Homo sapiens: one gene and its partners. The protein of the gene in region 3 interacts with the protein of the main gene of each other region in a pairwise test. Each region holds a gene or a part of one and is shown on either strand. Other genes may lie near its edges.

Region 1 (3,500 bases), on a different chromosome or scaffold from region 3:
AGGATCTAAGGTGGAAATTCAGCAAAGAATCACATAGTCTAAGTCTCGAGTTTAACAGTAAGATAATTTGAGATACTTTTGTAATTATTAAACACAAAGTAATGAGAGATTTTAAAACAAACAAATACACCTGAATTTATATATCAGAATAGGTATGGTGGTTCAAAATAGCTATCTAATAAAAACCACACTCCTATTCTAAACATTTGCCTTTGATCAAAATAATTTTGGGTCTCTTATTATGAAATTGCCTTTCTAAATAATACATAAATTTCTTCTCATAAGTATATATTAGCCACATTATTTTATTGTTATTGTTTTATATTCATAGCTTGCTTTAGATTAAAAATTATATTACCCAGACTGGTCTCTTGGACTTGCTTCCAAGTGACTTTTGACTGTATCACAAAATCAAATTCACTCTGAAAATATAAAGATTTTTCATCATAATTTCCTTTGTTAACAGCCAAGTGCTACCTAATTTTAGGTGTTTTCATTAAAAAAAAATGCATTGCAAACTTTAAAGACAATTCTTTTGTTTGTTTGTTTTTAAAAGACAGAGTCTCACTCTGTTGCCCAGGCTAGAGTGCAGTGACACAATCATAACTCACTGCAACCTCCACCTCCTGGGCTCAAGTGAGCCTTCCATCTTGCCTCACGAGTAGCTGGGTCTTCAGGTGTACAGGTGTGTACCACCATGCCTGGCTAACTTTTTTTTTTTTTAAGTTATATAGAGACAGTATCTCACTATGTTGCCCAGGCTGCTCTTGGAGCTCCTGGCCTCAAGTTATCCTCCCACTCAGTCTCCCAAAGTGCTGGGATTACAGGCGTAAGCCACCTCACCCTGTCAGCCTAAAGACAGTGCTTAATGAAGAGAAATATAAGTGCTTTGAGCAATGGAAGTATAATTAAAATTATACTATGAAAGATTTATAAAGATGACCATTTTGAATGGGACCACACTTATTTGGTTATATAAATTATGATACACTATTAAAAATTCATCATGATGATTTTGTATTTACATTTTATTTACATGTTTGCAATTTGTGAGGAAAGCTAAAATTATGGCTAAGCCATAAATATTTTTGCAGTTTGTTGAGGGTGTTTGTAAAAGTGTTGCCAAGGAAGACCAGTTGGCTACCCAAACAAGGGTTTAGTCTAGGTCTGATCAATACATACACATTATCTCAGGTTTGTCTATCAGAAAAACCTTAGGTTATCCAAATCAAAATAAAATAGATGCATAAAACAAAGGCCAATATGTGTTGAACAATTATATTGTGATATACAACTGCCAAGCATTCCCGATTACCATGACTCCATTTAGTCAGTCCATGGGCAAATGCCATCAATGAGGACAGCCCAGGGTTTCCATATTCTCTCTTGGCTTTACATCCTATAGGAATTGGAGGGGCCCACCTCTGGGATAGGAGCCCTTCTGTCTTGAACAATGTTGTCTGAACACTAACAAATGTTGACTTTCTACACCAGTCCCTCAATAGTCTTTTCTATTTATCCTTTTGCTGACCATGTTTTGTTATTACACAGTTGAGATTTTTCAGCTGGGAATCTGTGTTAATTTTGTATTAATTTTGATTAGCTTAACTCTCAGAGTTCTAAAAGTACCTCCTGTACCTGATATATGACAAAAATTATAATTACATTTATTTATATATAAAATATCTTTGTATATGTAAAATATCTTTGTATATATAATTATATAATTGTTTCTTTTAATTTTGCAAATTTTAAAAAGTTCTCCTTTGTTTTGAAGTTTATTCCTATAGTTTTTTATATGCTAGTTAAATTATTAATCACTTGATTCAAGTAATATTCTTATATACTTATAAGGAATAGTGTAGTTTTAATATTTAATTCCTTGCTAAAGAGAGAAGTGGAATCTATTTTTCTTAGCTACTTCATCAATATTTTATGTTTGATGTGACAGTCAAAATATCCCTCAGAGCTAACTGTTACACTAGGGAAATCACGGTTTTCCAGTTTTCCATTTATGTGTTATGGGAGGGAGTGGAACTTAGTGTAATAATATTCAATACATAAATGTTAACACTTGTTTAAAGGTCCTTGAGTGAGTACTGCTATAAAATGCATTATTATTGCTAGTGTCATTTCACAAGAGCCTATAATTTCAGTGTGATAGAGCTACAATATAAGTATAGTATTGCAAAACCATCAGGAAGGGTGTTAACTATTTAGCATGCAGTTATGTGTTGGTTGTCAAAACGTTAAAAACATCTCTGACTCAGCAGCAATTTTGGCAATTTTGATCCTGAGGCATCTGTGTAGGGCATCTTCCTGGAGAAAAACCTCTGAGATGCAATGAGGTCAAAAGGGGAAAACAGACTATGATAAAGATCAAGTTGTTTGGAGATCTTGTAGAAAGATTAATTTACAAATATGTCAAGTGCATTATCATGGAGGAAAACATTGCTATTTCTGTTGGTTCTCTTCAGAGCTCTAGAATCAATTTACCACATAGTTGTTTCAGTGTGAAATTAGCATTACAGAGTGGCTTTACGGCTTTACTGTAGGGCATTGTGTCAGCAAAGAGCTTAGGCTTCTTTTAGCAAGAAGCTTGTAAAAATTTAATTTACTCTTAGATTGCTTGATGTAGAGAATTACATTCCTACAGAGCTCTGAAAAATCTTTTTTCAGAGTTTTTCACAGCTGTATTCAAGTTGCAAGGCTTGTCAACTTTGCTATTTTTCTGTGCAGCTCTGTTAACTTATTATTATCTTTTGACATAAATTATGATTCCAAATTGTAAAGCTCTGGATGTCAGGGCCTTTTCTAATTTGTTTAGTATGATATTCAGACCATTTCAAGACTCTTCCGTGGAACAATTTAATAAAGATTTTTTTGTGATGTTAATGAGTTCATGGTGATCAACCCTAGAGACCTGTGTCTATTGTAGATCGATGACATTCAACAGTCCTGCAGTGCTGGCATCATTTTGATAAAAAGGGGTCAAAGCAAGTGGGACTGTGGGCAGATTTTTAATGCTTAGAACAATTATTCCATCGAAGTTTTCTTGTGTCCCTTCTGCCTTAGCCTTTGTAGGATAGCATGCTTGCTAATTTCTTGCTCATGGGGTAAGGAAATGAAGATTTTTGCTAGGTCCGTAGGATTATTAGGACTACTCAGGCCTGAAGCTATGCCTGGATATAGCCAGAAAACTCTCCCATAGCTTGCTCCAAGGAGCTGAGATACAGCAGTACTTCCTTTGTAGGTCATGATTCTGGGTAACCTGGAAGATGACCTCATTCATATTCTGTATTCTATGTGAGACGTTAAGAAGGTAGAGGTGGCCAAGAAGGAAATTGTTGCTGCCTTTATGGAACAAATTATCTGAAACCCAGCTTTCTCGAGGGCTTCATTGAAGTACTCAACTGGGGCACTTAACCCAGTCTAAGGCTGGTCAAGGAAGGCTTGCTGGGGGAAGTGTCTTTTGTATTCACACCTAAAGGAGGTTATTC
Region 2 (3,500 bases), on a different chromosome or scaffold from region 3:
TATTTCCCTATACATTATTTGAAAACACTGATCATACAGATGTGTTTACTCACTGGGCTTTTTTTTTGAAGTAGGGTCTTGCTCTGTCACCCAGCCTGGAGTACAGAGGCACAGTTGTGGCTCACTGCAGCCTTGAACTCTTGGGCTCAAGCGATCCTCCTGCCTCAGCCTCCTGAGTAGCTAGGACTGCAGGTGCATACCATGATACCTGGCTAATTTATTATTATTGTTATTTGTAGAGATGGGGTCTCACTATGTTGCTCAGGCTGGTTTCAAACTCTTGGCCTGAAGTGATCCTCCTGTCTTGGCCTCCCAAAGTGTTGGGAGTACGGCATGAGCCATCACACCTGGCCACTGGGCTTTATTTTAAGGCTAGAGCCTCGCCTTGCCAGCAATGAAAGAAGTGCACAGTAAGCCAGCTGTATGGCATCATAGATACCTACCAATTACTTAAAATGATAAAATCAATGAAAGGATGGCTCCTAGGAAACAAGTACCCCACTGGCTGCACCCAAAGCATTTCCACCATTTTGTTTTTGGTTTGTTTTTTTTTTGAGATGGAGTTTCGCTCCTGTTGCCTAGGCTGGAGTGCAATGGCGTGATCTCGGCTCACCACAACCTCCGCATCCTGGGTTCAAGTGATTCTCCTGCCTCAGCCTCCTGAGTAGCTGGGATTATAGGCATGTGCCACCTTGCCCAGCTAATTTTGTATTTTTAGTAGACAGGGTTTCTCCACGTTGGTCAGGCTGGTCTCGAACTCCCGACCTCAGGTGATCCGGCCGCCTCGGCCTCCCAAAGTGCTGGGATTACAGGTGTGAGCCACCGCACCCAGCCTCATTTCCACCATTTCTATCTTTTGGAAGAACAGACTAATATCAAGGGTCATGATGTGCAGAACATCTGTTGACAGACCAAATGCTCTATTCTTTCCATTTGGAGAACATATCTCAAGGAAATAAATTGGAAAGGGAAAAAACCCAGTAATTTGTACAAAGATTTACTGTAGAATGTGATGAAGAATTGGGAAAAGCCAAATGCCTAATAAAACTATGTCAGTCAATACACGGAACTGTTTACACATAATAATAAGTGGGATAAACAGAACATGGTATTAGTTACATAGAAATACTGAATAAAAACAGCAAAAGTATATTAATGAATATTAAACAAAATTTAAAAATTTAAGGTAATAAAAAAAGCTGAATTTAGAGTTCATTCAATTCTTTCCTTTTGCAAAGGTAATTGTTTCTAATTTTAAAAGCCAAGAAAGAGCCGGGCACAGTGGCTCATGCCTGTAATCCCAGAACTTTGGGAGGCCAAGGTGGGCAGATGGCTTGAGCCCGGGAGTTAGAGACCAGCATGGGACAACATGGCAAAACCTCATCTGTACAAAAATATACAGAAATTAACCAGGTGTGGTGCCATGCATGCCTGCCTGTAGTTCCAGCTACTTGGGAGGCTGAGGTAGGAGGATCGCTTGAGCCTGGGAAATAAAGGCTGCAGTAAGCTGTGATTGCACCACTGCACTTCAGCCTGGGTGACAGAGCAAGACTCTGTCTCAAAAAAAAAGCCAAGGAAGTTGCAGAATATAGAAGTAGATATAAGTCTTCCCTTCCTAATGTACCAAACACTCAAAAGCCAACATTTTCAAAATTTCACTGAACAAAAAAAGTAATTTTGTTCTTACCTGTTTGCAGTCCAAGTTTGGTTGAAGATAGAGGTGTCACTGAAGGAATTGCAGAGGATTAGGGAATGGACTCTAGGAGATTTGTGAGTGTATTCAGCAAATTTCTGGGCCAAAAAGCCTCCCAAAGAAGCGCCAAAAAGATGAACCTAATTATAAACAAATATAAGGCAGATTCTGAAATACTGATCAATCTTGAACCTGAGTATTAAAAAGTTGCTTCAATTATCACTAACCACAGAATATGTTATCACTAGCCAATAGACTAAAATATTTACAGCAGCTAGAAATTTAGAAAATATTGTATTTAAATGCAATTTATACAGTCCATCAAGATAATACAACTTGGCATCCAAGTTATATAATTAAAAAAAATATCATTCACAGATTGCATTAGAAAACAAAACCAGTCCAGGCACGGTGGCTCACACCTGTAATCCCAGCACTTTGGGAGGCCGAGGCAGGCAGATCACGAGGTCAGGAGTTCGAGACCAGCCTAGCCAGCATGGTGAAACCGTCTCTACTAAAAATACAAAAAAACTAGCCAGGCATGGTGGTGCGTGCCTGTAGTCCCAGCTACTCGGGAGGCTGAGGCAGCAGAATCGCTTGAACCTGGCAGGCGGAGGTTGCAGTGAGCCAAGATCGCACCACTGCACTCCAGCCTGGGCAACAGAGCGAGACTCCGTCTTAAAAAAAAAAAAAAAAAGAAAAGAAAAAAAGAAACCAACAAAACCAAGCTAGGGAAATATGGAAAAGGCCTGTATACTAAAAATACAAAAATTAGCCAGGCATGGTGGTACGTGCCTAGAGTCCTAGCTACTTGGGAGGTTGAGGTGGGAGGATCGCTTGAGCCCAAAAGGTTGAGGCTGCAGTGAGCCATGATTGCACCACCGCACTCCAGCCTGGGCAACAAAGTGAAAGCCTGTCTCAAAAAAAAAAAAAAAGAAAAAACTCAAAACCACTTAGTGGTTTATGTCTAAGAAAACTGTGATTCAGTAATTCCACCCCTAAACACATACCTAAGAGAACTGAAAACATATGTCAACACAAAAACTTGTACATGAATGTTCATGGCAGCATTATTCATGATATCCAAAGGGTAAAAACAACCCAAATGTGCATCAGCTGATGAATCGTTAAACAAGATATGGCATATTTATAAAAATATGATTTAACTGTAAAGAGAAACGAAGTATTGATTCCGGCTTCAACATGAATGAACCTTAAACTCACAATGCTAAATAAAAAAAGCCAGTCAAAAAGACCACATATGATACGATTCCACTTATGTAAAATATCTAGAATAGGCAAATCCATAGAGATAAAAATAAATTAGGTTGCAGGGCTAGTAGGGGGGAAGATGAGGACCGACTGCTAATGAATATGAGGTTTTTGGCATTAAAAAAATTATAAAACATTGACTGCAGTGATGGTTGCACATACCTGGGAGTATACTGAAAAACATGGAACTGTATACTTAAAAGGGTAAATTATATGGTATATGAATTATGTTGCAATAAAGCTATTATTAAAAAATAAAAGAGGGCTCGGCACGGTGGCTCACGCCTGTAATCCCAGCACTTAGGGAGGCTGAGGCGGGCGGATCACTTGAGGTCAGGAGTTTGAGAGCAGCCTGGCCAACCTGGCGAAACCCCATCTTTACTAAAAATACAAAAACTAGCCGGGCATGGTGGCACACGCCTGTAATCCCAGCTATTTTGGAGACTGAGGCAGGAGAATCACTTGAATCCGGGAGGTGGAGGTTGCGGTGAGCCGAGATCGCGCCACTGCACTCCAGCCTGGGTGACAGAGTGAG
Region 3 (3,500 bases):
TTCATCATAAAGTGACCAAGAGGATCTCATTATAGTATTCAGCAAATCTCCATTATGTTCTGAAATAGAAGTGCAACTAGGAATAATCAATCACCAAATATTTATTAAACATCTATCATTAACATAATTCCATATGACTATTAGAAGACAGGAAGAGAGAAATGATGGAAAATACATCTTTATTTAAACTGTAACTAAAATAAAAATAGAAAACAAAAACTTCCAAAATATTTAGTGGCCAAAAATAGAATACATACCATTTATCCACAAAAATTATCTCATGTTAAGCCCTTTATATGCAGTCATCCAGTCTAGACTTTTTTTAAATTACTATTTCACAATATGGACAGTTTTAAACTATGAAAATTATAAGCAAACAAAGAATTTGTAAAAAGAAAAAAATAATAATAAGAGTTTTCTTTAAATGCAACATCTAAGAATCTTAAAAGAAGAAAGCAGTTTTTTAACTGTACTTTCAAGTCATTAACACATACTTAAAGTTCAGTCCACATTTTAAAATACATTCGGTCCCAAAATTATGTCAGTTCCAAATGTTGACACATTTTGCTTTATCTTAACACAAACAGTACATGTCATTATACAATGGGGAAAAAATTAGTTTTTCTTTAATTATTATTAAAAACTGTGTTTCAAATTTACAACATACCATTTTTAATGAACATTACTAATCTAAGTGATTTTTAGTTGAAAATACTTCCAACACTATGTAATTATTCATGAAATGATTTTCAATTCCCAAGGTTCATTACTTATCTATTATACTAAAAAGGGTTCATGTGTCAAAAGGATTTGAAAACTGACCTGTGTAACAAATCCAAAAGTCTAAGACTAGTTGCGAAAGAATCACCCAAAAAACACTTTAAAAATGGGATTTCCAGGTGCTACGCTCCAGTAGGTCTATGATGAGATCCAGAAATTGGTATAATGAAACCTCCTAGTAATTCTGATGAACAGCAAAGTTTAGGAACACAGACATAAATACTAGTAGAGAGGCAGAGGAAGAAACAAGAGTGACATTGGGGATGCCATCCTTCTCCTACTTAAAAAGAGTTTTTTAAAACCTCCAAAAAGACGTAAGAACAATAAGTCAGAATACAATGGATTCAGGGTTTACCATTTTCAGGAATATTGGTGGAAGGTCCTGGTTCTCCAGGTGGTTCCAAGCTATCCAATAAACGATTCACTTTATTTCGAAGTTCTATCAGTTCTCGACGGAGATATTTCACCTGACTTGATTCAAGGGGTCTTGGCTGGCCATTAACTGAAATAAAAACATTTATTTGCTTAAAATTAGAAGTTCATGAATAAGTATACTAATAATATGCAACAAGGAAAAATAAATACAATTCCTTTAAAAAAACAAAAACAAGATATCAATGTAATGGAGTAACTTTTTTTTTAAAAAAAAAGAATTCTCTATGGCTAATAACTTATTTTGGAAAAAAAGCAGAATTATCAGTCTTTCTTGATGCCATACCTATAGCCTATGACCTTACTGGTAAAAAGGTTTGGTAGGAAAATCCGAGCTCTACTTTTTAATAGAAATGATTAAATTTAATAAAAATCATAACTTCAAAAGCTCACTTTATTTCATGCTGTTCTTAAATATTTATTAAATTTAATAGAAATTATTAAATTTAATAAAAATTATATAACTTAAAAAGCTCATTTTATTTCACGCTATTCTTAAAATAATACAAAAATACCTTACTCTATACATGTTTAAAGATATAACATGACTGATAGGTCTGTTATCCCTCTTGCATAACTTTGTCTTGAAAAAAAACAGCTAACTAAAATAGCTGATCTTAAAAGAAATCGTTAAAAAAATATATGCAGGGCCAGGCATGGTGGCTCACACCTGTAATCCCACCACTTTGGGAAGCCAAGGAGGGAGAACTGCTTGAGCCCAGGAGTTCAAGAAAAACCTGAGCAATACAGTGAGACTTCATCTCTACAAAAACCTTAAAAAATTAGCCAAGTGTGGCAGCACATGCCTGCAGTCCCAGCTACTCAGGAGGCTGGGGTGGGAGGATTGCTTGATCCCGGGAGGGGAAGTCCAGTTGGCTGAGATCACTCCACTGCACTCCAGCCTGGATGACAGAGGGAGACCTTGTCTCAAAAAATTTTAAAAAATAAATATAAATTTAAAAATATATGCAGAACTTATCTACATCATGACTGTCCTTCAAAGCAGTTACTTCCAGAAACAGTATATAAGCCACAAAATGCCAGAGATTACTCGGTAATCTCTAGTTGTGATTTTTTAATGAAAGCAACATTACTTCACTTATTATTCATTTTGTCCAAATGATTTTCAGTTGACTGAAAAAAATGAAATCCTTCATTCAGCAACAAACACTGTCACCACTCAGGTTATTTTTAAAAAGAAAGTGACACAAGGCTCTGATTGCAAACCCCAAGACAGGCGTTCAAAAATTAAACTAAAATGCTTTGCACATTGCCAGTATACATACATACAAACTCCTGAAGCACCTAATTAGAAAAGGACATCTACGTGAAAATAAAAGTTCAGGGCGATTCTTTGTTAAACATGTTTCAAAATCAAACCACCAATTATAAGCTTTTAGAAGAAAACTCACAGTAATTCACATACTCCCTGCATAGCTATGAAGTTCAATACAATCTCCTACCTACATCAATTATTGGTTTTCACTTGGTATTACTGTTTTTTCTCCAATATTTGATGAGAAAAACAGCTCCTAGCAGCCAGAAACTGGTCTGGTACAGTAAGACAGGCCTTAGTGTTGCTGGAAGCTGGCCTGGCACTCACAGGTAGGCTGTGGTGTTCTCCCGTTGAATATAAATATTTCAAAGAACACCAACATCACACAAGACTATAATCTGTGATAGATCAACAGTCCATAACCATGTCAAAACTCCAGACAAAAACAAGAACACTGACCACACCAGAAAAATGACCAAACAACCTTTTATCCTGGCTAATATGAGTAACTGCTACTACTTTACCAACTGCAGCTTTAGCCTCAATTCATTCCTCTCACCTTCCAGATAAGATTTAGTAAGATTCATTCCTCTCACCTTCTAGATAAGATTTGATAAGATACCCAAACATAGAATCATCTCTACTTCCTGAGAGCATCCAATGCAGAGCAAAGCTCTACTTCCTTGAACCTTATCCAAAATCAGGTAACACAAACCCAAGCCCAAAAAAAAATACTTTTCTAACATACTTGTAAGACATCCTATTGTTCTCCGTGGTATTCATTCTCCCTTGCTGCAGTAAGTCAGTAAACCCAACTTCATTCAACTACAGGTGTGTTCCTGGTGGTCTTTGGAGCACACTGATACATCTTACCAGAACTTTTAAGAACCTTGCATTTACATTCCTAGTATGGCCTATAATCTGTTATTATCTACTCAGTGGGTTTAAGAGCACTAAGCTCCAAATTATACTCAATTAAAAGTTTAAATTAGCTAAGTTTAAATTAATTAAG
Region 4 (4,155 bases), on a different chromosome or scaffold from region 3:
TTATATATATAATATATGTAACATATATGTTTAATATTATATATAAAATTAAATATACATATTTGTATATAATTACATAAAATATATAAAATACAAATATATATACAATTTCATATATATAACAAAGTTTATCATTTTAGTCACTTTTAAGTGAATAATTCAGTGGCATTAAGTACATTCACAATGGGCAACCATCACCACCATCCATTCCCAGAACTTTTTTTAATATTCTGAAACAGAAACTTCATATCCATTAAACAGTAACTCCCCATTCCTCTCCTCAGTCTCTGGCAACTATCATTCTACTTTCTGTCTCTATGAATTGTACTTCTCTAGGTACCTCGCAGAAGTGGAATCATGCAGCATTTTTCTTTTTGTGACCGGCTTATTTTGCTTTATTTTGCTTAGCATAATGTCCTCAAGGTTTATCCATGCTGTAGCACGTGTCAGAATTGCCTTCCCTTTTTTTTTTTTTTTTTAATTTTGTTTTGAGACAGAGTGTCGCTCTGTTACACAGGCTGGAGTGCAGTGGTGTGATCTCGGCTCACTGCAACCTCTGCCTCCCGAGTTGAAGCAATTCTTCTGCCTCAGCCTCCCGAGTAGCTGGGACTACAGGCGTGCACCACCACACCCGGCTAATTTTTGTATTTTTAGTAGAGACGGGGTTTCACCATGTTAGTCAGGCTGGTCTGGAACTTCTGACCTCAGGCAAACTGCCTGCCTCGGCCTCCCAAGTTGCTGGGATTACCAGCGTGAGCCACCGTGCCTGGCCTCCCTTTTAAGGCTGAATAATATTCCATTGTACGTAGATACCAAATCCATTCATCTCTGAAGGACATGTAAGTTGTTTCTACCTTTTGACTATTGTGAACCATGCTGTTGTGAACGTTGGTGTACAGGTATCCATTTGAGCCCTTGCTTTCAATTCTTTTTTATTTATAACTAGAAGTGGAATTTCTCCACATCCTCATCAACGCTTGTTTCTGTATTTTTTTTTTATTGTAGCCACACACTATGAATGTCAAAAAGTGACATTTTGACAATTTTGAGCCAGGCTTTCAGGCAGCAGAGGCCTGGGTGGCAGTCTGTGGTGTGAAGTGGATTTAGTCACACACAGTCTGATGTTGTAAACCACATGGGCTCTATTTACCTTCCTCTCCTAGGACTAGGAAGATTCTGTAGAGTATCGGAAAGCATTGGTTCATGTGCTGCCAGGATTCATGTTGGCTCTGGTGAGCCAGGGACAGGGAACTGACCTGCAGGCAGCCCAAGCAGCCACCTACTCACCTCACAATGACAGGGACCCTCATCATACAGGTCAGGGCTCAACTCAAAGACAGGCGTGGCAGTGGGACACAGCAACAGGACTCTCCATGTGGCAAGGGCACCTGGAGGTGGGAGGGCAGGAGCGTCGTCTTGCCCTGGCAGAAGAAGCGGTAGGCTCTGTCTGCGTGGCAGCTGGTCCCCAGCCCTAGGAGAGAAGCTGTCTGTGAGCAAAAGGGAGGGGATACAGGTGTTGGTTGAGGTCTGGGCACCACCCTGCTGGGCCACAGTCTGCTGAAGAGAGTGGGGCTTAGGGGAGGGTTCCCTGGGAATGCAGTGGAGTACCCCTTAAGGATCTAGGGGCCACGCACACAAGGAGTCTGTGCAGCGAGGCCCTCGCTAGGACTTCAGGGCTGGAAGGGAGGGGTCAGTGTTAGGCCTACAAACTACTGTTGTTCAACTGGGAATGCAGAGTCTTGCAACTTTCTTCACCTTGGATACTCCCCTGTGAATCAAGGTGGCTCTGAGTCCTAGGCCTGGGCCTTCCTCTATCCAGGGGAAGTGCTGAGGCCTGGTTCAGAGGAACATGTGAGCTGGAGCCAGTTCATACTGGCTCACAAGAGCCCATCCTGTGCATATCTGTGCAACTCAGTGCCAATGACATTATGTTGATAGCCTGAAATGAGCCATGATAGGAGCATTTACACCACAGAAATTGGCAGATGCTATAAACCCAGGGCCTATTTTCCCTGAAAACATGGTTGTTAAACATTTACCAGCACTTCACTTGCCCTAGGATCAGCTATACCTCTCAAACAGTAAACCTGATCAGTAAATGTGATCTTCTAAACAGCCCTCATTCCTCCTGAGTCCTGCTCCAGCCCCTTTGTCCCAGGGACCCTGGTATCACCACCAACCCCTTGATGATGGAGTGACATGCAGGGTAGGAGCCCAGGGAAGATGGGGAGGAGTGGGCTAAGAAAGCTGGGGCAGCCATGCTTGGTTGGCACAGCTTGAAGATAGTGGCTACTTTCCTTGTCTGTGGCAGAGCAGGGCTAAACAACTTGTCTGTGTCTAGGTCGTTTGCCATGGCAGGTGTGAAATACCCGGGACAGGTGAGTGATGTGGGTTTCTGTCCCCTGTGACGGTCTCAGGGTTGGGTAGCCTCAGCAAGGCCCTGGAAGGGCCAGGCTCTTTCTAGAAGCTCATCTTTCTGTAATGATAGTTTTGGGTTTTGTGGGTTTTTTTTTTTTTTGGTACAAGAAGAAGAAGAGAACTGAGTTTTCTTCTTTATAATTTTCTGGGGGTTCAGTTATTTACTCAGCATGCACTTATTAGGCACCCACAGTGTGCCAGGCCCTGTCCTGGGCTTTGGGACTGCAGAGATGTCTAAGTACACTAAACCTGCTCTAGTGTACTTCATTAAATCCATCACAGTACACCCTGCAAGTGCTGTTGTGGAGGGTTGTAAGGAACAAGGAAAGGGTTTAACTCTTGGGAGGTGGAGAATAAAAGGGTGGGAGAGATGTTTTGGGGAAGTGACATTTAGTCTGGGTCTTGGAGGATAGGTAGGAGTTTGCTAGTCTGTGAGGAGGGCAACTTGCATTTCCATCAGGAGATAGGAAAGAGCACATGCCAGGCCCATGCAAGTGGGAGGAAGTAAGGCTGGAGTAGAGAAGGCAGGAAGGTGGCGGGATGGTAAAAATGGGTCACAGCCAGATCATTTGGGCTCTGAATGTCAGGCCCCAAAGTCGGCCTTTGTCCTACAAACAGCAAGAAGCCATTGAATGGCTTTAAGTGGAGGAGTGACGAGGGAATCTCTTGTTTTATATTCTCCTTGTGCTTTAGGACCCTGTGGATTTAGACATATACCAAAGCTCCCACATGGTCGACTATCAGCCCTACAGGAAGCACAAATACTCCAGGGTCACGCCGCAAGAGGTAGGAAGGCACGCAAGTCCTGTCATTCAATCAACTGCCTACTGAAATCCTCTCTGTTGCTTCATTTGTATTACAAATGTGGACATTTGGGCCCTTGTTAGAACAATATCCAATGCCAGGAGATATGACTTAGAGATCTTTTCTGTGCATGTGCATGTATGTGTGTGTATTTTTTTTTTCTTTTTGAGAAGGAGTCTTACTCTGTCACCCAGGCTGGAGTGCAGTGGCGCGATCTCGGCTCACTACAACCTCTGCCGCCTGCCTGGATTCAAGCGATTCTCCTGCCTCAACTTCCTGAGTAGCTGGGATTACAGGTGCCTGCCACTGCGTCAGCTAATTTTTGTATTTTTAGTAGAGATGGGATTTCACCATCCTGGCCAGGCTGATCTTGAACTCCTGACCTCGTGATCCACCTGCCTCGGCCTCCCAAAGTGCTAGAATTACAGGCGTGAGCCACCGTGGCCGGCCATGTGTGTATGTTTTCAAATGTACATCAAATACGTCATGCATACAAAAAATTGTAAATAATACACATTTAGAGTTAAAATTACACTGATAAACACCGATGTAACCATTACAGACCGCTTAAAACATGGCACATTAACATTAGCAGTACCTTGTAGCCTCTTGGTAACCCGCAAACTTACCCCTCCTCCCATCTCCAGAAGTGGTTAATCATTCCCTTGTAGGCCAGGCACAGTGGCTCACACCTGGAATCCCAGCATTTTGGGAGGCAGAGGCGGCCAGGAGTTGAGACCAGGGGTTTGAGACCAGGAGTTTGAGGCCAGCAGTTCGAGACCAGCCTGGCTGACATGGCGAAATCCCGTCTCTATAAAAAATACAAAAATTAGCCTGGCTTGTTGGTGCACGCTTGTATTTTCAGCTGCGTGGAAGGCTGAGACATGAGAATTGCTTGAACCTGGGAGGTGGGGCGAGACTCTATCCCCCCCA
Region 5 (3,500 bases), on a different chromosome or scaffold from region 3:
GCCACCAGTGCCCCAGATGAGATTTCTGAGGTCCAGGAACTTATTCTTCTCGGCCATCCCTGAGTAGGTTTAAATATCTCAAGCACAGTGCCTTTTGGCCCGGCATGGTGCCCACACCTGTAATCCTGGCACTTTGGGAGTCCAAGGCAGGGGAATCCCTTGAGCCCAGGAATTTGAGACCTCTCTGGGCAACACAGAGAGACACCATCTCTACAATTAAAAAAAAAAAAAATTAAGAAAAAAACATACCTTTTTACAAAAAGAAGAACATAATATGATCTCACTTATATGTGGACTCTAAGAAAGTTGAATACATAGAAGCTGAGAGTACAACAGTGGTTACCAGGGGTGGGAAGCTGGGGAAATGAGATATTGGTCAAAGGATATAAAGTTGCACTTGTGTAGGATGAATAAGTCTAGAGATCTAACTTACAATCTGAAGACTATAGTTAATAATATTGTACTGTGTACTGGAAATTTGCTAAGAGAATAGATTTCAGGTGCTCTCATCATGAAAAAAAGTAACTATGTGAGGAGATGGACATGTTAATTTGCTTGACAGCAGTAATCACTTCACTATGCATATGTATATCAAAACGTCATGTTGTACACCTTGAATATATACAGTTTTTATGGGGGTGGGGGAAGAATGTCTTCCATTTCTTTGAATCTCTATTTGCATAAATAGTATACAAATAAGAGAGAGGAAGAAGGCAGAGGGAGGGAGGAAGGAAGGGAAAAGGGGGAGAAGGGAGAGAGAGAAGGAAGATTCCAACGTCTATCTCTGGTGCTATGGTTTGAATGTGTCCCCCAAGGTTCATGTGTTGGGAACTTAATTCCCAATGCAAGAGTGTTGAGAGGTGGGGCCTTTAAGAGGTGACTAGGCCATGGGGGCTCTACCCTCAGGAATAGGCTAATGTCAGTATTGCAGGAATGGGTTTCTGATAAAAGGATGGGTTTAGCCTCCTGCCCTCTCCCCCTCTTTCCCCCACCATCCATGTGATGCCTTTCGCAATGTTATGATACAGCCAAAAAACCCTTACCATATGCTGGCACCTTAATCTTAAACTCCCCAGCCTCCAGGACTATGAGAAAATAAAGGTCTATTGCTTATAAATTACCCAATCTCAAGTATTTTGTTATAGCGCCACAAAGGGGACTAAGACACCTGGCCATGTCTCTTCTTTTTACGATCTGGCACTTCCAAGCTCTCCAGCCCTAACTCTTACATCTTCCATCTGTCCCCACTCCCCCTACACTCTGCTCCAAAGCTGTTCCCAGACAACCTAGGGTCTTTCCCCTTTCTGTATCTTTGCTCAGCCCACTCTCTCTACCTGGAATGCCCTGCACCTCTGCCTTTGGCACATGTCATCCTCCACCTTTTACCCCTGCCCACTCCCACTCTGTCCTTTTCTATTCATCTTTCAAGGCTCCATTTAAATGTTAACCCCTCTGGGCAGCCTTTGCTCCTCCACCAGGCATATCTAGCTGCTCTTTTTCCTTCATTCACATGGCACCCTGACTTATGTGTTTTATAGACTGTTTCTCAAATTCTAGAGCGCTTATGAATCCCCTGGTGATCTTGTTAAAATGCAGACCCTGACTCAGGAGTAGAGCCTGAAAGTCTACATTTCTAACAAGTTCCCAGGTGATGTTTCTGCATTACATTAGGATTCATTATTTACGTATTTGTGTAACCCCGAGCTCCTCCAGGGAAGAAGCTATATCTTTTTTTTTTTTTTTTTTTTTTGAGATGGCGTCTTGCTCTTGTTGCCCAGGCTAGAGTGCAGTGGCACAATCTTGGCTCACTGCAGCCTCTGCCTCCCGGATTCAAGCAATTCTCCTGCCTCAGCCTCCCAAGTAGCTGGGATTACAGGCGCCAACGACCACGCCTGGCTAGTTTTTGTATTTTTAGTAGAGACGGGGTTTCGCCATGTTGGCCAGGCTACTCTCGAACTCCTGATCTTGTGATCCGCCCGCCTCAGCCTCCCAAAGTGCTGGGATTACAGGCGTGAACCACCGCTCCCGGCCCTGAAACTATGTCTTAATCACTTTCCTATCCCACTGCCTAGAAGAACACGGTACACAGTAGGTGCTCAGAAGATGTGATTTGATGCTGACCGCAGGAAAGAATGAGGAAGTAGAGTGAGCCACTGCTCAGTTTCTGCTATTGGTAAGCTACATAATCTCCCCACCTGGCAGCAACTGTTGAGGTTGCCAAGAATAGCAGGCTAAGGGACACAGGGACAGGTAGCTGGTGACCAGGAGGACCCTCTACAAATGCAGAGCTCAGGGTGTCACTGAGGAAGGAAGGAGGCTGGAATCCAAATACTCTCCACTGTCTCCCATGCCATGAACTTTACTTGTTTTATTGTCAATCTTTTCATATTAGTATAGAATCTCCGTAAGGGCAGGGCATTTGTCCATTTCATTCCTGTGCTTGAAACAGAGCCTGGCATATAGTCGATCCTCAATAAATATTTGTTGCATGAATAATTTAATGAAAAAGTAACCATTGTTTTCATTTCTCCCTTCTTTCTACAAATCTAATAATCAGGCAAGGTCTGGGCCTACATAAGGCAAAGGTGGAAAAGGCAATAGTCAATGAGAAAAAAGCACACAAACAATACTGCTAACTTAAAACAAACAGACAGCAAAAATTATTTTAAAATACTAAGGTTGGGTTTGCATGTCTCCAACTGAATCAGACTAAGGCCTGAACATATAGGGATCCAGCTTCCCAGAGACCTTCCTAATAATTCCCTAATGCTAGACCCAGTATTCCCTGAACTGAGCCATGAATGCAACTATAGAAAAGAGCCATGCGAAGGTGATGAGCTGAGTGTTTCAGACCCACACAACTTGACATGGCTTTTAGAGATCTGCCTGAACTGCTCAGAATATCAGTGTCCTGGCCTTTCACGCTCATTAGAAACCAGGAGACTGGGGGTTTTATGAAATAATTTTTTTAAAAAAAACTAAGATTGTTATACCTAGTTAATCAAATATTTGTACATAAAATAACAATAAAATAAAACACAAAAACAATCATATCATAGATGTATATTAGATGACGGGGTTCCATCTTTAGCTACTCCTTTTCCTAGCTGTTTATCCATTTCTCCTGACTGCCCCCACCCCAGCCCATACCCCAAGGGTTTAATCAGCAGAGTCACAGACCTGAGGGAGAATGGTTTCTGTGCATGTACGCAGAAGGGTAGGGAGCCTGCCGGTGTCCTCGGAGACCCGAATAGTGCTCACAGCCATGGTGGGTGTGGGGAGCAGGCAGAGGCAGAGGAGCGGCATACTGGTAATTGGAGTTTCCTGCTGTGCACACTCCATCTGGATTGGAAAAGATCCAGCCTCCCACTAAAATAGACAAGAGGAATACACCAAGACTGAGTCTGTGAACTCCCACACCAAAAATCAGGTGACCAGCTACTTTACACAGCTACAATTCTTGTAAATGACACTGATGCCAGCCTGTGTGATGGTGCCAG
Region 6 (3,500 bases), on a different chromosome or scaffold from region 3:
AAATTTCAAAATCAGTGTTCACCATTTCTTAAATATTCCTTAAGGAACTTTCTATGCATACATTATTATTACTTAAGCGGAATCTTATTTATGTAATGTGTTTTTCTTTACATAGGAAAGTTTTCCATAATAGTTCATACAGCTCTATTAACTTCATCCCTTTTAATGGCTGCACATCATACAAAAATGATTTGCAATTTAATTTACCTTCTTTTTGTAGCAGTATAAGTTGTTTTAAGTATGATACAGTGAACATCTCTCAACACTTCTTTGTTTGTGTGTGAGAATCTAACACCAGGAAAAAGCACTGGACATGGAATTTAGAGTCAACAGATAAATTTATCTAAAATCCATTTGAAAAGTCCATGCCAATTTACACTCATTTCTCTAACTCCTTTTACCACTGGATATTATTAAATTTATTGTTTATAATGACAATAGATATTAAAAATTAGCGTCTTATTTTAACTTACATTTCCTCGTCTTTTTTTTGGAGACAGGGTCTCATTCTGTCACCCAGGCTGGAGTGCAGTGGCGAGAGAGATCACAGCTCACTGCAATCTTGACCTCCTGGGCTCAAGTCATCTTCTTGCCTCAGTCTCCCTAATAGCCGGTACTACAGGTGTGTGCCATCATGCCCAGCAAATTTCTTAAAATTTTAAAAATTTATTGCAGAGACAGGTGTCTCACTATGTTGCCCAGACCCGGTCTCAAACTCCTGGGATCAAAGGACCCTCCTGCCTCAGCCTCCCAAAGTATTGGGATTATAGCCATGAGCCACTGTGTGTACTCCCAAATTTAAATTTATTGATGTCCTGGAGTACTTTTACCAATTTTTAAATTGAAGTGTAATTAGCACTCAACAAAATGCAGAGATCTTAAGTGTTCAGATTAACAAGCTCTGATAATTGTATACGCCCCTATAACCACCCCAAGATACAGAACATTTCTCACTCCAGAAAGTTTACTCATGCTCTTTTCCAATCAACTACCTTGCCTCATGGCAGTCAATTTTTGACTTAATTTTGCTTGTTCTTTGACTTTATATAAATAAAAGACTGTAGGTACTCTTTGCCTTTGATCATTTTATTACTCAGTAGCACATCTTTTTCTCTCACTGCTTTGTAAGATACTAAGCAGACTAGCTTTCATATATGAGATTAAAATTTTTTGGCCGGGTGCAGTGGCTCACGCCTATAATCCCAGCACTTTGGGAGGCCGAGGCAGGCGGATCACGAGGTCAAGAGATCGAGACCATCCTGGCTAACACGGTGAAACCCCGTCTCTACTAAAAATACAAAAAAACGATTAGCCCAGTGTGGTGGCGGGTGCCTGTAGTCCCAGCTACTTGGGAGGCTGAGGCAGGAGAATGGCATGAACCTGGGAGGCGGAGCTTGCAGTGAGCCGAGATTGCGCCACTGCACTCCAGCCTGGGCAACGGAGGGCTACTCCATATCAAAAAAAAAAAAAAAAAAAAAAAAAAAAAAAAAAATTTCTCCAAAATTCCTTTTATCTGTAGATCTCTTAAAGGGCATATTTTGGTTATACAAAAGTTTTAAATTTCATGTCATCAAATCTATCAATGTTTTCCTATACGTGGCTTCTGGATTTTGTGATATATTTACAAAGGCCTTCCCTACTCTGCCTTGCTTTCATATAGTATTTTTATGGTTTAACTTCTTGTTTAAAACCTTTAAATTCTTCCAAACAATAATTATCAACTATCTATCTTTTCTCAGCTAATTGGACAAGCTACCTTTACTACACTATACTGCTGCCATTTATAACTAGCATCTATCCAATATTTACCATGAAACATGGAACATGGTGGTGTACTGTGCACCACCTCACTTGGTAGCTCCAGAACCCAGATACAAATTTTATTTTCACCCCCAGTTTACAGCTGGAGAAGAGGAAGCTTGGCAAGTTAACTTGTTTAAGGTCCCAGAGCTAATGACAAGGAGAGAAGCAGTTCAAACCCAGTATGACTCCAGAACTTAGGCTCTTAACAAGCAGGCTATAGAGCCTCCTTCATTTCCCACAGATATTGTGGACTTTATTCTTTTCTTTTTGAAACAGTCTTGCTTTGTTCCCTGGCCAGAGTGCAGTGGCACCATCATAAGCTCACTGCAGACTCGACCTTCTGGGCTCAATCGATCCTGCCCAGCTAGTTTTTTTGTAGAGATGGAGTTTCACCATGTTGCCCAGGCTGGTCTTGAACTCCGGAGCTCAAGTGATCTGCCTGCCTCGGCCTCCCAAAGTCTTGGGATTACAGGCGTGAGATACTGTGCCCAGCTGACTTTATTCTTTTCTACTGGTCTGCAACTGTACCATTCCATTTTAATTACAGAAGCTTTACAATATATTTTAAATAAACATTAATGTGAGTCACCCTACTGTCTTTTTTTTTTTTTTTTTTTTCAGATTTTCCTATGTATTTTTATTTTTTCCAGATCGTTAAAAAAAAAAATTAATGTGTTAGCATTCTGGTTGGAAATGTATTATATTTACAGATTAATCTAGGGGAACATCTATTTAAAATGTCAAATCATCTCGTTCAAGAACAAGGTATAGTATAGTCCCTCGGTACCTGAGGGAGATTGGTTCTAGGACCCCCATAGATACTCAAATCCCAGGATGCTCAAGTACCTGATATAAAATGGTGTAGTATTTGCATATAACCTATGCACATCTTCCCGTATAAATCATCTCTATATTATTTATAATACTTAAAAGTGTGAATACTATATAATTATATTAACTTATATTTTCTATGGTTATTTTTATTGTTTCCCCCAAGTATTTTTTTTTTTTTGAGACAGGGTCTCACTCTGTTGCCCAGGCTAGAGTGCAATAGCATGATGTCAGCTCACTGCAACCTCCATCTCCTGGGTTCAAGAGATTCTCCTGCCTCAGCCTCCTGAGTAACTGGGATTATAGGCAAGCGCCGCCATGCCCGGCTAATTTTTTGTATTTTTAATAGAGACAGGGTTTCACCACGTTGGCCAGGCTGCTCTTGAACTCCTGGCCTCACGTGATCCGCCCGCCTCAGCCTCCCAAAGTGCTGGGATTACAGGCATGAGCCACCGCACCCGGCTCCCTGAATATTTTCTACCCGCAAATGCAGACACAGAGGACTGTTTAGTTCCTGTCCTTTTCATGTAGTTTATTTTCTTGATCAGATCTCCTATATACATTTCTTTTAAGGGATTTCTGTTAAACTTTTCCCTGTGGTTGTAAATAGGCTCTTTTCTTCTACTGTATTTTCTAATTGTTCGTTCATATATGGGACAGGGTTTTAAAATTTTAGTCTATAGCAGGTCCTCGAAAGACGTTTCATTCAACTTTGTTTTGTTATAATGTTGATGAGAAGAAAAAACAAAAAGTCTCAGCTGAGGTCACTGTCTGTGTGAAGCTGGCTCATTCTCCCATCTTTATGGGTCTTCTCCAAGTACTCCAGTTTCCTCCCATATCCCAAAGATGCACATGAATGGATGTGT
Region 7 (3,500 bases), on a different chromosome or scaffold from region 3:
TGAGTTTTCCTCCTCAATGTTGAGCAAATCTTCTTCCCTCCCTGCCTGAAAATGCAGTACCCCCCACCCTGAGACCCTGACCCATGCCAAGGGCAGCCAAGCCTGCCAGAAAGACCAGCCCAGCATGGCCGAGGGCCCATGTCCCCACCCCTGCTGCAGCTACCTTCCCACCACGCTCCACGGTCTCGTGGACTTTCTTCAGGAAGTCTCGCTCCCGGCAGCGCTTGGAGTCACGGATGGTCGTGGCGTACGTGGACTCTGTGATGAGCAGGTTGGGGCGGCACTTGTCAATCCAGGCAGCTCTGGAACACGGGGGTGGGGGTGTGAGCCACGATGCACTGTCCCCACGGTTGCAGGGCTGGGTGTGACAAGCTGGACCCCAGTACCACGCCCAGCCGCCTTCCTAGGTCACTCTGGCTGGAAAGAGCCAGCTGGTAAAATGCTGTGGGCAGCACACTTGGGAAGAGAGAGGAGAGACAGAGGCACCCACCCAGACACTTCGGAAGAGCGAGACAGAGGCACCCACCCAGAGACTTGGGAAGAGAGAGAAGGAGGGACAGAGGCCCCTGCCTGGACCCTGTGCCTTCGCGCATTTGGGCCCAGAACGAAGGGGGCTCTCCAGGCCGCACAGGACATGGGAGACACTGCCAGGCTGGCCACTCAAGGGCTGGCACCCTGACACCTGCAAGGGTCCTGAGCTCCAGGGGGGCCCACGGGACAAAAAGACACCTCAGCCTACTTACCCTAAGTGTCGGTCTGGGGTCATGTTATAATCACCCTGGTGAACGATCAAGGATGCCATGAGGAGGGTGCCTCCCACCCCAGCAGCCCCTCCCAAGCCTCAAGCCCTTCCACTGACCGTGTAGACCACAGACTCTGAGCCCACTTTAATCTGGAACATGGCTGCCCCCAGCACGTGGCCTGCATAGTAGGCCTTGATCTCCAGCTCATCATCTACCTGTGGAGGACAGGGCTGCGCTCAGGCTGTGTCCTCACAGCAGAGGGGCGGGGAGTGAGGGAGGCGGGGGACGGGAAGCGCGGGAGGCGGGGGTGGGGAGCGTGGGGGAAGGGGAGCGAGGGGGCGGGGGCGGGAGCGAGGGAGGTGGGGGCGGGGAGGGAGGGAGGGAGGCGGGCAGCGAGGGAGGCAGGGGCAGGGAGTGAGGGGGGCGGGGGCAGGGAGGGAGGCGGGGCGGGGAGCGAGGGCACTGCACTGAGCTTTTCAGTCCCTGTTGCTCACACACAGCATCCAGTTCACAAGGGACGGGCAACGTGGACAAAGAACGAAAGACAACGGACAAAAAACTGAAGGGACCTGAAATTGGAGTTTCCAGCGTGGACTTTGAATACATGACAGAGAAAAGACAAGGTTCAGAATGTTGGCGGCCAGGCCTAAGGTGGATCCCTTGGGGTCAGGAATTGGAGACCAGCCTGGCCAACATGGTGAAACCCCGTCTCTACTAAAAATACAAAAGTAAGCCAGGTGTGGAAGTGCGTGCCTGTAATCCCAACTGCTCAGGAGGCTGAGGCAGGAGAATCGCTTGAACCTGGGAAGTGGAGGTTGCAGTGTACTGAGATCACGCCACTGCACTCTAGCCTGGGCAATGGGGCGGGACTCCATCTCGGTAAAAACAAACAAAAAAATACTGGGCTGGGCACAGTGGCTCACACCTTTAATCCCAGCACTTGGGGAGACCAAGGTGGGCAGATCATCTGAAGTCAGGAGTTCAAGACCATCCTGGCCGACACGGTGAAACCCTGTCTCTACTAAAAATACAAAAGTTAGCTGGGCATGGTGGTGGGTGCTTGTAATCCCAGCTACTCAGTAGGCTAAGGCAGAATTACTTGAACCCGGGAGGCGGAGATTGCAGTGAGCTGAGATTGTGCCATTGCACTCCAGCCTGGGCAACAAGAGCGAGAGTGTCAAAAACAAAAATTGGCAAAAAACTAGACTTCTTTTAAATTTAATTTATTCATTTAAAACTTGCCGGGTGCGGTGGCTCATGCCTGTAATCCCAGCACTTTGGGAGGCTGAGGCGGGTGGATCACCTGAGGTTGGGAATTCAAGACCAGCCTGACCAACACGGAAAAAGCCCGTCTCTACTAAAAATACAAAATTAGCCGGATGTGGTGGTGTGCGCCTGTAATCCCAGCTACTCGGGAGGCTGAGGCAGGAGAACTGCTTGAACCCGGGAGGCGGAGGTTGCAGTAAGCCGAGATCGCGCCACTGCACTCCAGCCTGGGCGACAGAGCGAGACTGTGTCTCAAAAAAAAATAAATAAATAAAATTGAGAGACAGGGTGGGGCTGTCACCCAGGCTGCAGTGGCGCAATCATGGCTCACTCAAACTCCTGGGCTCAAGCGTCCTCCCGCCTCCACCTCCGCCTCCCAAATAGCTGGGACTATAGGCACGCACCCACCACGCCAGGCTAATTTAAAAACAAAATTTTGGCCAGGCGCAGTGGCTCACTCTTGTAATCCCAGCACTCTGGGAGACCAAGGCGGGTGGATCACCTGAGATCAGGAGTTCAAGACCAGCCTGACCAACATGGTGAAACCCCCGTCTCTACTAAAAAAAAATACAAAATTAACTGGGTGTGGTGGCACACGCCTGTAATCCCAGCTACTCGGGAGGCTGAGGCAGGAGAATCGCTTGAACCCAGAAGGCGGAGGTTCAAGGTGAGCTGAGATCGCACCACTGCACTACAGCCTGGGCAATGAGAGCGAAACTCCATCTCAAAAAAAAAAGAAAAAAAAAAAGAATTCAACAGATGAATTTAACACCATATGACACATAACCAGAAGAGAATCCATGAACTGAAAGACACCAGAGGGAATATCCATCAGGAAACAGGAAAGACAAACAGATGACGGAGTTTCAAGAGGTTGAACGTCAGGCTCTCGGGGTCCCTGGAGGAGCAGGAACGGGGCAGAAACAACACTGGAAGAAACATGATGAAGGCCTCAAGCCACAGATCCAAGAGGCCTCAAACTCTAAACAGGCTGAGGATACATGTCAGCCCATCAGAGCACAAGCACCAAAAACCAAGGCTCCTGCTCAGACCCTACGGCTGCCCATGCCCAGAGACAGAACGTTGTTTGCAAAGTGCAGAGACAAAATACTGTCAACCTAAAATCTTACACACCTAAGGGAAAAAAAGTCCTTTAAGAACGAGGATAAAGTAAATCCATTTGCAGGCAAATAAATTTTTTTTTTTTGAGCCGGAGTCTCGCGTCTCGCTCTGTCTCCCAGGCTGGAGTGCAGTGGTGGGATCTTGGCTCACTGCAAGCTCCGCCTCCCAGGTTCACGCCATTCTCCTGCCTTTCAGCCTCCCGAGTAGCTGGGACTGCAGGCGCCCGCACCACGCCCAGCTAATTTTTTTGTATTTTGTTTAGTAGAGACAGGGTTTCACCGTGTTAGCCAGGATGGTCTCGATCTCCTGACCTCGTGATCCGCCTGTCTCGGCCTCCCAAAGTGCTGGGATTACAGGCGTGAGCCACCG

The links.
Region 1: the proteins of TFG (region 3) and CFTR interact in binary tests that used the Homo sapiens proteins (3 or more experiments, as listed by UniProt).
Region 2: the proteins of TFG (region 3) and SPG21 interact in binary tests that used the Homo sapiens proteins (3 or more experiments, as listed by UniProt).
Region 4: the proteins of TFG (region 3) and SPMIP9 interact in binary tests that used the Homo sapiens proteins (3 or more experiments, as listed by UniProt).
Region 5: the proteins of TFG (region 3) and TBX19 interact in binary tests that used the Homo sapiens proteins (3 or more experiments, as listed by UniProt).
Region 6: the proteins of TFG (region 3) and MAPK1IP1L interact in binary tests that used the Homo sapiens proteins (3 or more experiments, as listed by UniProt).
Region 7: the proteins of TFG (region 3) and INTS11 interact in binary tests that used the Homo sapiens proteins (3 or more experiments, as listed by UniProt).

The regions. Positions count from the first base shown.
Region 1 is NC_000007.14:117,483,025-117,486,524, forward strand, and holds part of CFTR (cystic fibrosis transmembrane conductance regulator), read left to right. Parts: intron 1-3,500. UniProt on the Homo sapiens protein: Epithelial ion channel that plays an important role in the regulation of epithelial ion and water transport and fluid homeostasis. Mediates the transport of chloride ions across the cell membrane.
Region 2 is NC_000015.10:64,972,915-64,976,414, forward strand, and holds part of SPG21 (maspardin), read right to left. Parts: intron 1,834-3,500; coding exon 1,688-1,833; intron 1-1,687. UniProt on the Homo sapiens protein: May play a role as a negative regulatory factor in CD4-dependent T-cell activation.
Region 3 is NC_000003.12:100,726,494-100,729,993, reverse strand, and holds part of TFG (protein TFG), read right to left. Parts: intron 1,283-3,500; coding exon 1,136-1,282; intron 1-1,135. UniProt on the Homo sapiens protein: Plays a role in the normal dynamic function of the endoplasmic reticulum (ER) and its associated microtubules. Required for secretory cargo traffic from the endoplasmic reticulum to the Golgi apparatus.
Region 4 is NC_000002.12:88,523,294-88,527,448, forward strand, and holds the start of SPMIP9 (protein SPMIP9), read left to right. Parts: upstream 1-1,355; 5' UTR 1,356-1,489; exon of another isoform or gene 1,490-1,513; intron 1,514-2,116; exon of another isoform or gene 2,117-2,206; intron 2,207-2,341; 5' UTR 2,342-2,351; coding exon 2,352-2,378; intron 2,379-3,111; coding exon 3,112-3,204; intron 3,205-4,155. UniProt on the Homo sapiens protein: Microtubule inner protein (MIP) part of the dynein-decorated doublet microtubules (DMTs) in flagella axoneme.
Region 5 is NC_000001.11:168,304,877-168,308,376, reverse strand, and holds part of TBX19 (T-box transcription factor TBX19), read right to left. Parts: intron 3,370-3,500; coding exon 3,181-3,369; intron 1-3,180. UniProt on the Homo sapiens protein: Transcriptional regulator involved in developmental processes. Can activate POMC gene expression and repress the alpha glycoprotein subunit and thyroid-stimulating hormone beta promoters.
Region 6 is NC_000014.9:55,058,147-55,061,646, reverse strand, and holds part of MAPK1IP1L (MAPK-interacting and spindle-stabilizing protein-like), read right to left. Parts: intron 493-3,500; exon of another isoform or gene 476-492; coding exon of another isoform or gene 474-475; intron 1-473.
Region 7 is NC_000001.11:1,314,661-1,318,160, forward strand, and holds part of INTS11 (integrator complex subunit 11), read right to left. Parts: intron 959-3,500; coding exon 860-958; intron 779-859; coding exon 744-778; intron 303-743; coding exon 164-302; intron 1-163.